2 separate regions of the Homo sapiens genome follow, and region 1 is linked to region 2. A link means that fine-mapping ties the variant in region 2 to the expression of a gene that starts in the linked region. Tissue or cell type: lung. Region 2 holds a variant in brackets; the other region holds the start of a gene. All regions are shown on one strand. Distances are from middle to middle.

Region 1 (2,624 bases), 42 kb before region 2:
GCACGGTGTCAATCACGGCAGACTAAGGCCAGCGGTGATGGCTTGAATGCCAGGCTGGGGGCTGGGATTTTTCCTGAGGATTTCACAGGACAGAGGTTGGCTTGGAAAGACCAAGGTGGGACTGAGGAACATTCCCCCTACCCCCAACCTCGGTGGGCTGTTGCAAGCCTGGAGGCCAGAGAAGACGGGCCTGGGATGCCGCGGGCGCAGGGGCAGGCAGTGAAGGAGATGGCTGCCTTCGGTAGAGCTGGTCGCTGAGGCAGAAGAGGAGGGCGTGGGGCGTGGGGCGTGAGGTGGCCGGCGCCCCGGCTGGCCAATGGCCGGGCTGCGGCCCCTCCGCGGGGCGGGGTGGGCCTGGTGGGCGGGCGGGGCTCGGGGCGGGGGCGGAGAGGGAGCCTGGTGGGCGGGCGGGGCGCGTCTTGCGGGCTCCCTCGGGTACCGGCGCTGCCGCACCCCGCCGCGCTCCCGCACCCGCGGCCCGCCCACCGCGCCGCTCCCGCATCTGCACCCGCAGCCCGGCGGCCTCCCGGCGGGAGCGAGCAGATCCAGTCCGGCCCGCAGCGCAACTCGGTCCAGTCGGGGTGGGTGAGGGGCGGCGGCGGGGGAGGGGACGACTCTGCTGAGCTCAGCCTCTCTTGGTGGATGTGGGGCGGGGCGCTCGAGTAGGACCCGACGCCAAGGGGAGGGGGCTGACCTGTGCTTGGTCCACCCCAGGTAGGGGCTGAGAGAGGCTTGAGGTGGAAGTGGGGGTCGGGCACTCTGACCTGGTCGAGGAGGGGCTAGGGTTTGAACCGGGGACAGAGTCTAGGTGAGCTGGGGCTTGGGAGCTATTAGCGTAGAGGATCCGGGTTCGGTTGCTCTGGCGAGGGCTCCAGCATCACAGGTGAGGAGCAGAGCTCAGCTTGTGCTCGAGGATGGGGGTGCGGGGTCCTGGGGCGATCGGGGCTCGGGCTGGAGCGGGTGGGGTCGCGTCTTTTCGGGTGTAGGGGAGCTGCGTTTTCAGGGGCCTCGGTTTCCTCCCGTCTCCGGGCGGGTGCGGGAAAGAGGGGCGCCAGGGGCGGGCGGCGGGGCGGAACGGGGCGGGGCGGCGGGCCCAGCGAGGGGGGTGGTCCGCGCGCCTCTGATCGCGTTCCGGGACACACAGGCGGCGGCTGCGGGCGCAGAGCGGAGATGCAGCGGCTTGGGGCCACCCTGCTGTGCCTGCTGCTGGCGGCGGCGGTCCCCACGGCCCCCGCGCCCGCTCCGACGGCGACCTCGGCTCCAGTCAAGCCCGGCCCGGCTCTCAGCTACCCGCAGGAGGAGGCCACCCTCAATGAGATGTTCCGCGAGGTTGAGGAACTGATGGAGGACACGCAGCACAAATTGCGCAGCGCGGTGGAAGAGGTGGGTGCGCCCTGGCGGCGCGGGGCTCTGAGAAGCGCCAGACTGGGGGCAGCGAAGTCTGGGAAGGCATGGAAGAGCGCTGGCCAGGGACCTCGGGTCCCGCGCAGGGCCTGGGAAGGGCCGACAGCAGATGCGGAGTGACCTGGAGGCAGCGCACGGTGATCCCTACTCCCGCCTCGTTTTGCCTCCTTGCCAAAAAGTCTGGATCTGAGCCTGTCCACCGAGAGGCTCTGCACTGGACCCTCCCTAGGTAGCTGGGGCCACCACCTGCCTGCAGTTGGCGTCAGGCATGCCGTTGGCCTTCCCTATTGTCAGCAGAGGTTTGCAGGGCCCCTGGTATTCCAGCACTGTGGTTTCACAGAAACCCGGGACAAGCTCCAGGCATCGCCAAGTTCTAGCTTGTCCGTTATGCTTTGAGCTTGTTAGGATGCCATGCAGGGACAAAGAGGCAAAGAGCCCTGAGCTTTGCTGGCAGTCTGTCTGGGCTGTCTTGCTTCTCACGCAATGTGGGGGCAGAGAGGGAAGATGGAAATCCTAAATCTCAGCACTGTATGAGTGGCGGATGAGGATGTGAGAGGCAATACCCCCTCCACCCAACGGTGCTTCGCAGTTGTCCTGGGCTCAGGTCCTCCTCTGCCACTCAGTAGCAGGGTGACATTGGGCAAATCACTTAATATCCTGCACCTCAGTTTCCTGTGAAAACTAAATGTCATATGTGTGGGCACCTGGCAAATAATAGGTGCGCAGTATTTAGCAACTATTATCAGATACCACGTACCTTAGCAAAGCTTTGCCTAGCTTCTGCCCTCCATCACCTCCAGGTCTAAACACTGTGGGTGGCATCTTGTTCTGTCCTCTGTGATGGTCACCCACGCATGCCCAGGGCTACCTGGGCAGGAGATGTCACTGGCCCAGCCCTCTCTGTCCAGGTGCGGGGAGCTGTCCCTGGTGCCTGGGGTGGGTAGACGAGGGCGCTGTTGGGCCCAATCTGTCTGTAGCCTGTGTCTATAGAGAGGAGCCAGCCGTCCTAGTGAAGGAGGCAGCAGGAAACCAATGTCCAGGCTGGTTGGCCCCTGGTCTGGCTTCACATCCCTGCTGTCTCCAGCTTGGTATCCCCCTTGGGCAAAGCCTTAACTGCTGGCCCTTGTCTCCAGGGGGAAGTTGCTTTCTCCCCGCAGCCCTTTGTAGTTTGGGGCTATTTCCCCTCCCACTCCACAACAGTTAGCCTGTGGAGTTTGCAG
Region 2 (2,756 bases):
GTCCCTACACCTGTTGCTTCCCCTGGGGATGACCCATCCTAATAGACAAACAGAGACATTCCGGCAGCCCCCAGGCAGGGAGAGCGGCAGCTGCTCTCCTTCTGGACCTGCACCCCACCCACCAGATCTTTCTCCAATCTGCCAATAAGAGAGGGCAGAGGGACAGGGCAAGAAGAGGCCAGGGCACTGCCCCAGTGCAGGTTAGATTGGGAAATGTGGAGCCAGGGCAAAGGAGACTCTTCACCCAACAGGCATTTTGGACGAAGCCACATGGACTCACAGACTTTTCATAGTCATTTTTCCTTATTCAGACAATAACACAGCATGCTAATAAGCTTGGAAAGTCAAGCAGTTCTTATTACCTTACCCGACTGTCTGTGGTGAGGCCACTGCTGTTGCACCTCGCAGCCAACCCCACTCGGTACCGTCACTGGGCACAGCCGTGGGGACCTCACTTTGCTCTCTAACTGCCATGCCCTGTGTGGCTGCAGGACCCTGGCACCCACAGGCCATCCTCATCTTGGGCTGGCTTGGGCCTTAGTTTAATCGGCTCATCATTGGGCCTTGCCTCTTTGGGCCTGGACCTAGGGACCTAAGGAAAAAGGGAACAGCACAAGTCTGTGGGGACCACAAAGACCCCCTGCTGTTCTTTGCAAAATCTTAAGCTGTGGAGAAAGACTCAGATCCATGAGTCCTCCCGGTGCCATTTTTCCAGCGTTCTGACCCCCATGTCTCGCCAGCCAAGCTCCCACCTCTGTCCCACTGACTTTCACTGAAATCTCAGCCTGGTCTGCCTGTCTCTACAATGGGAGGATGCAGGTTGGCCTATCTGTGGTATCTTCAGGCTGGGCTCTCAGCAGGCCCCCAGTCCCTAAGCCGCTGGCTCTAGGCTCTTTCCACCTGTCTGCAGCTCTGCACCCGGGACAGTGAGTGCTGTGGAGACCAGCTGTGTGTCTGGGGTCACTGCACCAAAATGGCCACCAGGGGCAGCAATGGGACCATCTGTGACAACCAGAGGGACTGCCAGCCGGGGCTGTGCTGTGCCTTCCAGAGAGGTGAGTGGCCTCCCCTCAGATGCAGGAAAAACCCTGTCCCAAGCTCCACCACACTGGA[C/T]CTCCTGGAGCCACGTCCATGCCAACCACATGGTTTCGCGTCCCACCTCTTGGATAGGCTCCCAAATGCTCATCAGTGTGTGCTGCACTCCCACAGCCTCTGCCCGGAGTGGGAAGACCACCTCTTTTTTTTCCCCTGTTGATGCTCAGAAAAGTTAAATGACTTCAGGATGCAAAAGCCCAGTCTGGAATGGGGTGGGACTAGCAGCCCCCTCCCTCCCACCACTCCTTATTTCCCAGGTTCCTCTACCTGTGAATCACCCGCTTCCACTCCCATCTTCCGTCCTGCCTCTCCCAGGTGAGGTCTGCTCAGGCTCTCTCCGCCCCCACTAGGGTTTTGAAAAATTCTCATTTGCCGCCTCCCCAGCTCTGCATCCCCAGCCCACTAGTCCTCCCTGTACCTGCCGCCTCCGTGATCTTCCTAAAGGGCTGCTTTTTGGGTGTTGCTCCCCTGGGACCTGCAGCAGCTCCTGTTGTCTCCCACGATGTTCAGACTCCTTAGGCTGTCTTGTGAGGCCTCATGCAGCTCCAACTTACTTGCCCTCCTTTTCTCTCCACTACTTCTTGGCCTATTTGGGAATTTCACCGGCCCTGACATTTTCCACTGAGCTCAACCCCAGGCCTTTGCTGGTGCTGTCCCTGTGCCTGAATGCCTTTGCCTCCCTCTTAATTTCTCCAGACTTTCTGGCCCTCAAAATCCAGCAGAAGCCCACCTCTTCCAGGCAGTCCTCCCTGCTTCAGCCCTACCAATCATTCCCTCCTGAGCCCAGGCTGCTATTCTTGTTTCCTGTCATTCCGTATCTTCAAAACTAGCCTGCACTTTGGGGTTGAGGGTGGGAGGTGGGAGGTTATGCTCCATTTCTTTGCCCCTCCCTTTGGAGCCCTTCTACCCTACACGGGGCACACAGGGGTGACTCTGGGCTGGTTCCAGGCCTGCTGTTCCCTGTGTGCACACCCCTGCCCGTGGAGGGCGAGCTTTGCCATGACCCCGCCAGCCGGCTTCTGGACCTCATCACCTGGGAGCTAGAGCCTGATGGAGCCTTGGACCGATGCCCTTGTGCCAGTGGCCTCCTCTGCCAGCCCCACAGGTGAGGCCCCCTAACCCTCACTCTCAGGGAGCCAAGGGCTGAGGAGGTGCCATCCAGCAGGGGCGTAGGAGCAGGAGCAGGTTTTCCCTGGGGGAGGTGTAGATTCCCTTTAGGATTGGTTTGAGAGGTCGTTGGGTCATGCAGATGGAAGGGTCCAATCAGCAGTCGGTTCTAGGGGTCTGGAGCCCAGGCTGCCCAGGAGGCACAGATCTGGGGCTCATCTAGCTGGTGGCTGAAGCTTCATGAGTGGATGGTCCATGGAGAGGACATGGAGGGAGAAAAGCCTGGGCTCCCTCCCCAGACCTGTCACAATGACAGATAAGCAGAGAAAAAGGAGCTGGCAGAGAGGCCACGGGGAGGCCAGGAGTGGCCACCAAGGTGGAGGGTGCAGCCCACACTGTCTGAGGCTGCTGAGACTCCATGAGGCATGAGGCTCAAGCCTGGCCAGCTTCTCAGGGCACATCTCCCTGTCCTCCCCGCAGCCTCTACTCAGTCTTCTCTCCCAACAGAATCCAGGGCTGCTGGGCAGACAGGCAGAACTCCCATTCCCCACGGC

Evidence for each region. PIP is the estimated chance that this variant, and not a neighbour inherited with it, causes the effect.
Region 1: DKK3 starts here. The variant in region 2 is fine-mapped to the expression of DKK3 in lung (TOPMed, PIP above 0.99).

Annotation. Positions count from the first base shown.
Region 1 is chr11:12,007,129-12,009,752 of GRCh38, reverse strand. It overlaps DKK3 (dickkopf Wnt signaling pathway inhibitor 3), which reads left to right and starts at 1,127. Exons shown (of 7, transcript NM_001018057.2): 1 at 1,127-1,383. The coding sequence starts at 1,171. RefSeq lists an enhancer at 1,940-2,624.
Region 2 is chr11:11,965,253-11,968,008 of GRCh38, reverse strand. It overlaps DKK3 (dickkopf Wnt signaling pathway inhibitor 3), which reads left to right. Exons shown (of 7, transcript NM_001018057.2): 5 at 911-1,055; 6 at 2,044-2,200. Among named protein-coding and RNA genes, the nearest start is that of DKK3, 42 kb to the left of the region's middle. RefSeq lists an enhancer at 1-144 and a silencer at 987-1,036. The variant C/T (reference allele first, on the strand shown) is at 1,114.